Linked DNA regions of Homo sapiens: region 2 is linked to region 1. The links come from fine-mapping of genetic effects on gene expression. A gene starts in region 1. The other region holds a variant in brackets. All regions are shown on one strand. Distances are from middle to middle. Region 1 holds the start of LMBRD1 (LMBR1 domain containing 1). Region 2 overlaps LMBRD1 (LMBR1 domain containing 1).

The links. PIP is the estimated chance that this variant, and not a neighbour inherited with it, causes the effect.
Region 2: its variant is the best candidate, but not a certain one, in a credible set for the expression of LMBRD1 in whole blood (TOPMed, PIP 0.88).

The regions. Positions count from the first base shown.
Region 1 is chr6:69,794,658-69,799,902 of GRCh38, reverse strand. It overlaps LMBRD1 (LMBR1 domain containing 1), which reads left to right and starts at 2,893. Exons shown (of 16, transcript NM_018368.4): 1 at 2,893-3,090. The coding sequence starts at 3,022. RefSeq lists enhancers at 2,972-3,201, 2,830-3,385, 3,512-3,561, 3,386-3,942.
Region 2 is chr6:69,771,578-69,776,822 of GRCh38, reverse strand. The region is part of intron 3 of LMBRD1 (LMBR1 domain containing 1); the gene reads left to right. Among named protein-coding and RNA genes, the nearest start is that of LMBRD1, 23 kb to the left of the region's middle. The variant C/T (reference allele first, on the strand shown) is at 2,687.

The sequences.
Region 1 (5,245 bases):
CCTTTGATTGTAGAACTAGGAGAATGGAGCTACATTGGGATTGGCCTGTGCTCCCAAAGTTGTTGGTGCAAGGTATGTATCATCATTCCTACAGAGGGGATTTAGACTATTTGGGGAAAGGGGAAGAACTGGCTTGGGGTTGTCTTAGGCCTCTCCTCCAACTTAAATGAGCTTCTAGAAGAAGATTACAAGACCTCAGCAGGAAAAGGAATAATTAAGTATACCTCAGTATGCTCTGGGGCTTGTGGAGGAGATATAAGTGACTACCTGTCAGTGGCTCAAGTCCCTGCAAGTTTGTGTCTTTCCACAGTCAGACTTTTGTTGATGCTATTTCAATCATAAAAGCCATGAGCTGTATGAAGGTCCGAAGGAGGTAATTTTCCTTAGTAGTACCCATTCATTTGGTAGTCAGAACCAAGGACACAAAGCTCTAGCCACTCCACAAGTCAGTCAATATTGCAAACCAAACATAGTAGTATACATAACATATAAATATTATAGGCTAAACATTCTAAAAGAAAATAACATTTAACATCAAGAGAAAGGTTAGGAAAACAGGATTAACCAATCCAAGGAGAGCAACATGGACAAGGAGAGTGTCCTCGGCTGATCAGGATGCATATCAACATTTTGCAAGGAAGAGTCTTTGATTTGAGCAGAACCTTTGGTGGCAGATGCTAGATGCTGATCATGAGTGACAGTAAGACAGTGTCTGTTAAGATGGCTATCTTGAGCTGTTGAAGTTCTACTCTTTTTATAGCCTCAGAGTCCTCTGGTGTTGACTGATAGTAAAGAGTGTGCCTGCAATAGCAAATACTTGGAACCAACTGAAATGTCCATCAGTGATAGACTGGATTAAGAAAATGTGGCACATATACACCATGGAATACTATGCAGCCATAAAAAAGGATGAGTTCATGTTCTTTGTAGGGACATGGATGAAGCTGGAAAACATCATTCTCAGCAAACTATTGCAAGGACAGAAAACCAAACACCACATGTTCTCACTCATAGGTGGGAATTGAACAATGAGAACACTTGGACACAGGAAGGGGAACATCACACACTGGGCCCTGTTGTAGGGTGGGGGAAAGTGGGGAGGGATAGCATTAGGAGATATACCTGATGTAAGACTAGTTAATGGGTGCAGCACCTCAACATGGCACATGTATGCATATGTAACAAATCTGCACGTTGTGCACATGTACCCTAGAACTTAAAGTATAATAATAATAATAATAATAATAATAATAATAATAAAAGAGTGTGCCTGGTTATGTCGTTATCTGGTTGGGTGCAGTCTCTATTGATTAGGTGAACATCTGGTCCCTTTTGGCATGATTCCTTTTGAAATGTAAACAGAATCTTTTTCTAAGAAGTAGTTACTTATGTCAAGGGTGCTCTATACAATCTGGAATAGAGATATCAACCTGGAAGCGATACCTCTCTTCACTTTAAGGAAGCTATGACAGAGGTCTCCAGGGATATGAATTATTAGGAAGAAAGAGTGAAATTCAAACATTTGCAGGTCTAGAGGGCTTAAAGCCAGCTTATGATGGTACCAGTTCAAGTTAAAACTGTATTCTCCCCTATTCCCTTCTTATTCTGTCCAGGCAGGAAGGACCATCCTATTTTTTCCCTCAGGCTTCCAGCCGGAAGTAGATTATAGGTAGAGCATAACTCATCACCACATAATACATTGGAAAAAGATGATGGTATTTTTTCTCAGAGTTGTTTCTTGACTACATCACAGTGGTGAAACATGCACTCACACCCCTGTGGACTCAGGTAAGCCATCCCAAGAGTTTCCTCCCTGTGGACTCAGGTAAGCCATCCCAAGAGTTTCCTCCTTCTTCTTCATTGTGGGCCTATGGCAGTGTGTTTTGTTTGCTGATGCATATACCTTTACATACAAAGCTATCATGGAAATTCACAGGCATGCATACATCTGAATAGAAAGGCTATAACATCATGTGATAAGTTCATGTCCAGCCAACCAGTTATCCCGGCTGGGCACCAGTGCCAGTAAATTAGAGTGATTTGGGCAGCTAGTCAACTTTTATTCAGAGTCAGCTGTCTCATGCGTCCGTGTGAAGAGACCACCAAACAGGCTTTGTGTGAGCAACATGGCTGTTTATTTCACATGGGTGCAGGCGGGCTGAGTCCGAAAAGAGAGTCGGCAAAGGGTGGTGGGATTATCATTGGTTCTTACAGTTTTTCGGATAGGAGGTGGAGTGAAGAGCAATGTTTTGGGGGTAGGGGGTAGATCTCACAAAGTACATTCTCAAGGGTGGGGAGAATTACAAAGAAACTTCTTAAGGGTGGGGGAGATTATAAAGAACATTGATCAGTTAGGGTGGGGCAGAAACAAATCACAATGGTGGAATGTCATCAGCTAAGCTATTTTCACTTCTGTGGATCTTCAGTTGCTTCAGGCCAGCTGGATGTATACGTGAAGGTCACTGGGGATATGATGGCTTAGCTTGGGCTCAGAGGCCTGACATCAGCCATTCTTGCAACCTGGTAAGGAGTTCTGCTAATCACACACATTCCACCTTGTACACGAGGGCCAAACTTCCTTTTGGTGAAGAAGTATAAACCTCTAAAATTGACTTGGATCTCCAGGTCCACCTAGCCCATTCTTTGTGGAGTTCCCTTGCTGTTCTAGTCTATCAACTTAGGCTGAGTCAAATATCTCAATAGGTTGCCCAGCTATGAGCCAACACCCTGCTCTGCAGCCCTCCCACATCTCAGCTTGCAGGGAAGCCAGCGAGGGCAGCGTGGTGATGTCACTGCGTCCGCACGCGCCCCGCCCCTGAGCAGTCCTTGCTGCCCCGCCCCCGCTCGGCTCGCCGCCAGGGGACGCTAGTGGGTCCAGTCTCCTTGGCAACCACTTGCTCCTCCCCCTCCGCCCCTTTAACCTTTAGGGTGCGCGGGTGCAGTATATCTCGCGCTCTCTCCCCTTTCCCCCTCCCCTTTCCCCACCCCGGGCGCTCAGGTTGGTCTGGACCGGAAGCGAAGATGGCGACTTCTGGCGCGGCCTCGGCGGAGCTGGTGATCGGCTGGTGCATATTCGGCCTCTTACTACTGGTAGGGGAGGCGCTTGGAGTTTTCCCCATGTTTGGACTGGGGGAGGAAGGGAGGGGCAGGCCCTGCAGTTGGCCTCTCCGGGCCCCGGAGACCCTCTTCGCCCCGCCCCGCTTTTAGCTTGGACTGTGGAGGGCTCCTTAGTGTTGGGGGCTTGGGCGGGCGGCGGGGGCAGGGGGGTGTCGATTTCCGGTCTCTTTTGCTGTCATTTCACCGATGACGTCTAGGGTTGCAGGGTCCTTTTTGGAAGCTCTTGCCGTCATCGCTGACTTGGGCAATGGGGCCGGTGGGGTTTGGGGGCGGAAGAGACCCTCGGGGTTGAGAAGTATGTGGTGGCCTTTCGTCCCCTGTAAAACATTGTCACACGGTGTGGGGCGGCAGCGCTGGATCTTTGCAAGTTAAGTAGGCGCTGGCGTTGTTTACTTGTCACCTTCTCTGTATGTTTTTTCCCTCATTTTCCCTACCCTTGGGGCTAGTGAGTCTCCAACCTCTGTGCCCATTGTGTGATTCTGCCTTGATGACGTGAGTTGCTCGTTCTGACTTCCAGGTGTCACATTCTCTTCTAATCTTTTTTTGATTGGTGTAGATACCTGTGGAGGGCGGAGCTGTAGCCCTCTTTATTACCAGTATCGGAGTATATACTACTACCTGTCTGACCTCAGGTGCTTTCTTTTCCAACGATCTTATTTCTGCATATTCAGTGAGCAAAGTGTAGATAGAAATGTCTCAGAGTGGCCTGGCTATTACTTCCCTGTTCATATTAAAACCCTTTGGTTTATTTGGGAGTTCAATTTATTTCCTTTCATAACTTCTCTACCTTCTCAAATCTTCTCTTTTCTCATCGTCCGAGGCTGTAGTTACTTTCTGTTCTCACGTATTTTGACCTTTTTGCATTGCAAAACAAAAACCTCCAGTTCTGGAAATCAGGCTTGTTTGGTTTTACTTTAATTGTCAGATCCAGTTGGTGTCTGGTACCTATGTAGTATGTTCTAGTAGATTTTTGCAGTAGAGACTAAAAAAAGAAAATAAAAGAAAAGAATGGTGTGAAAATTTAAGAAAAGGATCCTCTTGTTACTGCCATCACTGTCACAGATAAAAACACTGCCTTTACCCTGGAACATGTTAGTCCTCTCTTGGAGGAAATGAAACCCTAAAGGTTGACTGTGGTCTCTGCAGCCACCCAGTCCTGTATTTGGAGAGCCCCCTGGCTTTTCCAGTCCATCAGATTTAGTTTGTTTAGAAAAAAATAAATAAGCATGTAATGTATGAAAGTTACGTGAGACTATCTTGGCAGTTATAAATTAATAAACATTTACGGTACAGAAGTGGTGTGAATTGTAAGAGGATGTAAACCAAACAAAATACGGCTTTAAAGAGGGCCTGAAGATAAGTGAGAAAACTGAAATTCTTGAAACATGTATTTTATGGACCGAAAGCCAAAGTGTGACTATAAATAAAGCAGGACTTAAGAGAATAGACAACAATATTGGAAGAAAATGAGAATTGTGGTAGAGTTTGGATAGATGAAGAAGAGAGGCCATTTAAGTTGGCAATATTACAGCAAGGACAAATAAAATCAGAATTGAATGTTGTCGTGGATAAAAGCATTAGGAAGAAGGACTTTTGTTTAAATTTCTGCAAATCTCTTTAAATCCTGGTTTATTAGAAGAAAGGCTGGTTTCTTTTGTTGCCTTCTACATTCAGTCTTTTGGGGTATGTTATTTTAGTCGAAGTGTATGGAGAAAATACAGCTGCAATGATAGGTAGTCAGAAACAGAGGAGCGTTTTTCAGATAATTGTGGATGTTTTTTGACACTACACCAAAGCTCAACAAGTGGAAGATTCATGTCAGCTGCAAGGTGGAATCTGAAACCCTATCAATGAGCATTTCATTCATTGTTACATTAAAATCCATTAGCCCATCTTGCACTTTGAAAGGCTCTTTTACCCATGCATGGTTTTATAACATGATGCCATGGCCACTTAGAAAATGTTGGTTTACTGAGTTATGCACATCTTTTAAATATGGATACGTTTCATTACACAATATCAAAATATCACATTTCATTAAATTACAACTGATCTTGTCAGAAATGTCTCTGAAAATTCTAAGTATTGAAGAGTTGTCAAGCTCATACTTGTGGATGTAAGTCTTTCA
Region 2 (5,245 bases), 23 kb after region 1:
TCTAATTTACTTTGTTGTGTTAGGCAGCCTGTGAATCTATTACTAAAAAGCTAATGGTACTGATTCTGATTTTAGCACAGCCAAGTTTAGAAACCAGTGGCCTAAGTCAGTGGCTTTTCTAAAGATGTCTCGTGCATGTGCAATGAGATAAAGGTTTGAGGGATAAGGCGGCTAAGCATTGACTCCATGGGACCTACTTATGCTTTAATTGTCTTTTATGTTCGGGTTCCATGTGTGTTTTCAAAAGAAGAGCTTTCTGTTAACAAATCATGTGATAATCTCTTTTCTAGAATATTAAGATTAATGTTTAGATGCCTAATTCATGATAACTTTGAGTAAACTGTATACATATTTTCCTTCATAGAGTTACTAATGCAGGGTTTTTTCTGTATGTGTCAAGTTTTCTTAGGTACCAGTTTAGGTGCTAGTTTAGATGCTAGTTTTCCATAGAGGAGAAACTGATCAAAAAGGTTTAAACTCTTAAAACTCCTAAAGAAGTTTTAGTCATCTTCCTCAATGAAATTGTTTAGGAGTGTTAACTACTTTTAAACTACTGATTCAAATTTATAGTCTCACTGCTTTTTCATACTCCATGACATTGAAATCTATTGGCCCATTTGCACTTTGAATGGATCTTTTGTCCATTTGTCAAATGCCAAATAAGACAGTTGACATTATGCCTTATTCATTTGGAAAATATTTGTTCAGTGAATAATATAGGTCTTCTGAATGTTGACACATATCATTATACATTGAAAAAACCACATTTGTTAATATTGCCATTATTCTTATCAGAAAAGTATATATTGAGATGCTGTAAAACTCAAAGATAGATTCAAGTTTTCCAACATTCTAATTTTCTCTTGAAAGCTTCAGTTTTATCATTGGTGACAAATACTGTCACTTATTTCCTTTGGAGTGATAGTCTCACTGTTCATTTTTGAGAAAGCCTGTCTAATAATCAAGTCTGGATAACCATTGCTTATCTGTCAGTTGTTCTTTCAAGTAAAAATGATGTTCTTTGAAAAAAAAGTGGCTACTGTAGCTCACAACTCAAAGAGCGCAGACAAAATTGAGATGTTGTGAGACACAAGTACAGCATGGTTTATGTGTATTTCCTGTCACACAGAATATTAAAAGGATATATATGCAAATGTGGACACTAGAATTTTTACTGCTTCAAAAGGGACTTTTGTGAATAAAAGGCTCAAATCTCCCTCCTCCCTGAAGAATACAATGACTTCTAGTGTAATTTGAGTCTACTATCTTGATTCCTGTAAAGGGGCAGCAGTTTTATCCACTGTTGTTTTTGCACCATTAGTTTAACTGTAAACATAGTGGAAAGGCACATAATATCTTAGTATCATTATGCAAACAGTTTTGATGTTGTGAATACCCTGAGAGGATCTCTGCAAATCCTAGGGTCTGGAAACCACATTTTTAAGGATCTTCTGTTATATTAATGGAATTTGGGGTGTTTTGTTCTGAGAAGCTGGCAGAAATCAGGCTGCCTGCTGCTTCTCCTTGTGAGCACTCCCCAGCTGTTGATTAGTTATTAATAATCCTCATTAACTGAAGCTACTTACAAAGCAGATTCAGTTTTCTGGAGCTTGTTGAAGTATGAGAGGGTAAAGTTGTTCATTTTCATCCTATTCCCTGCACACCTAAGGACTCTGATCAGGTGACTCCCTCATCTGGGAAGGTTATGCCCGCCCCAGAAACTTTAAGGATTTGTACCTTTTATTTCTTTTGAATGTTTTATTTAGTTCTTCATCTTTTCCTTCCTTCCCTCCCTCCCTCCCTCCCTCCCTCCCTCCCTCCCTCCCTCCCTCCCTTCCTTCCTTCCTTCCTTCCTTCCTTCCTTCCTTCCTTCCATCTCACTGTATTTTGGGCAGGAGTGCGGTGGCGTGATCATAGCTCATTGTAAACTTGAACTCCTTGGGCTCAAGCAGTACTCCCACCTTGGCCTCTCAAAGGGTTGGGATTACAGGCATAAGCCACCACACTCAGCCTACTCTTTTCTTTTATAAAACTGCCCTCGTGTGAGTTTTGAGTTCTGAGTTTTGTTTAATTTTGTATTTAGACCTGCTATGCAGGCTTAGCAGTGACTTCTGAGTTCTGTTTAATTTCATATTTAAGCCTGCTTTGCAGTCCTTTTATCCCTTATGTTGTCTGTGTTTTAGCCTTTTATCTAATTTGTTTTTATTTCAAATTTATTTTTATCTTTATATTTGGCCTCTCCCTATTTCTACAACCCCTGCATGCATGCAAAAGTAAGAAGTGAGAAAAAACATTAAGTAAAAGGAAATTCATGTAAAAGAAATTAATGAAAGGCGGGGGTAAATGAATTAAAACTATCCCAAACCCTAAGCAGGAATTATTTGAGGCTATTTTTGTTCAGTTCTTCTGTAACTGGCCTATCAATTCCTCATGTTATTAGCCTGTTCTCCCACTGCTGATAAAGACATACCCAAGACTGGGTAATTTATAAAGAAAAAGAGGTTTAATGGGCTCACAGTTCCACATGGCTGGGGAGGCTTCATAATCATGGTGGAAGGCGAGGAGGAGCAAAGTCACATCTAACATGGTGGCAGGCAAGAGCATGTGCAGGGGAACTCCCCTTTATGTAAAACCATCAGATCTCGTGAGACTTAATCACTGTCATGAGAACAGCATGGGAAATACC[C/T]GTCCCCATGATTCCATTACTTTCCACTGGGTCCCTCCCATGACACATGGGGATTATTACAATTCAAGATGAGATTTAAGTGGGGACGCAGAGCCAAACCATATCATCCACATAGACTTTCTTCTCTTGACACTAGTTTTCAGGCTATCATCTTGTGTGTAGATGTAAATTGAATCATATAGTTCATAATGTTTTGTGTTTGGCTTCTTCAGTGTGTAACATTATATTTGAAACATCTATATTGATGCAGGCAACAGTACTCTGTTGATTCTTATTACTATATTAACATACCGTAGTTTATCCATGCTAGTGTTGATGAAAAATGGGGTTGTTGACAATATTTGGTCTTTTCAAATGCAGCTGTTAAGAAGATATTATATATGTACATTTAAAAGATTTTTACTGCATTGTTTTCCATTGTATGGATGTTCATAGAAAAATCCCAGTTTATTAGGTGTTTAATAAAATTTTTTTTTGCTGTTAAAACAATTTTGTAGTAAAAATAGGAGTGAGTCAAAGTATACACATATTTAGATGAATTAAGTTATGGAACTAAGGGAGAATAAGATGGACCGGGAAGCTTTTCAGTTCCAGTTTCTATGCCATACTTTTAGAGCACCTAAGAGAGTTTTTTGGAAGTTTCTCTTCATTCCCTATTGATTAGGTGCTGATAATTTGTATCTGGAAACTTTTTTATGTATTTTGAACTTAGGTTTATCTTAGTGTGTTTTGTGCTGTTAAAGTAGAATACTCAAAACTTGGTAATTTGTAAGGAACAGAAATTTATTGGCTCATAGTTCTGGAGGCTGGGAAGTTCAAGATGAAGGAACTGGCATTTGGTAAGGGCCTTCCTGCTGTCATCCCATGGCAGAAGGGCAATGGAGGCACACACATCCTTTTATAATGAACCCACTCAGATGATAGTGACATTAATCCACACATGAGCAGTCACCCTTGCTACCCAAATACCTCCCATTAGGCCCTACCTCCCAAAACTACCATATTGGGTAGTGATCATGAACTTTGAGGGACACATTCAAATCATAGTAGGGTTTACAACTCCTAGAATCTAACTTGAGAAGAGTACATGAGACCTTTGAAGTTGACTTCTTTGTGATTTCTCCACCTGTGAAATGGTGATAAAGTAGTACCTACTTCGTAAGGTTAGGAGTGTGAGACATGTGATTAGTGCTAAATAGGTGTTATTTACTGCTGTTTATTCAAATCAGATAAGAGAACAAGAGAAATTTTCTCTGTTAGTGCAATGATATAGGAAAGTTAATATTGAAAGAACTGACTAGTATCTCATCAAATTTCAATTTTCTTGACACTATTGTTTTGAAAACATCTCTAATAATATATTTCAGTGCTTTTCCAGACAAGATAGAAAGACTGAGACTAATTTTTAGATTTGTTTGATTCAAAATCCTTTTTACAAAATCTTGTTTGATAAGATACAGTTCTGTCCTGTCTCCTGCCCCTTTTCCCCCTTTTTAAAAGAAAGTATTCTTAATTAAAGGGGATGTTTTCTAAGTGGTTTCTGTTAAGTTTGCTCAAGAGATTATCTAGATAATCTCTAGAGACCTAGTAGCGTAAGAATTTGTTTCCAGTTGGAAATACTAAGAAAGCAAGTGATCTCTTGGACTTATAACTAGTGTGACTTGTACTTTTTGTCTCTAAATGAACTGATGATTTGTCACATTAATATCATAAACCTTCCTTCACACTCCAGATTTTGGAGATTGAGACATATGTTCTTGTTTTTTCTTCTTATGTTCTTGGTTGTGCCTTTTGAGTTTCCTTTGTTGGTTCGTTCTCTTTCTTCTGACCTTTTAAAATATTTGTATGTCCCACGGGTTAATCCTTGAACCTGTTCTGTTTCAGTTAATCCTTTGGTGATTTTATACCATTGCTTCCTTCTAAATATCACCTATATGCCCAATTCCCAGTTTCGAATCTTTGTGCAGACCTCTCTGGAACTTCACAATCCTATGTCCAACCGTTACAGAACTCTACCAAAAAATCAAAGACATCTCAAATTTAACATTTCTAAAGCAACTGACCTTTAATCTGTCATACAGTAGGTTTTTTTTCTTGTGGATAGCAACAAGAAGGATAGAGTTTCTCAGGCTGAAAACCTTAGAGTCATCCTTGAATCTTTACTTTTTCACATTTTGAGTCAAATATGGCAGAAAATTCCCTTGTGCTTGATTTTCAAAATTTATCTAGAATCTGACCACTTCTCACTACCTTTTTTTTTTCTAGCTATAATCCTGTCTAAGACACCATTGTCTCTTTTGGGGTTATCACAGAAGTCTGTCTTTTCCACCCTTGTTTTACTGACAATATAGCAGTCAGAGTGATTCTTTAAAAATATGATACGTCTTTTCCTTATCTGCTCAAAACCCTGAAGTAGCTTCCCATGTAATTCAGAGGAAATGACGAAGTCATTACTGAAGCCTGCAGGGCCTTATGTGATCTGACATTCTTCCCCACCCCACAAACTTCTTTGTTCTCATCTACTATTTTGCTGTGCTAGGCAAACTCTCATGATGGCCC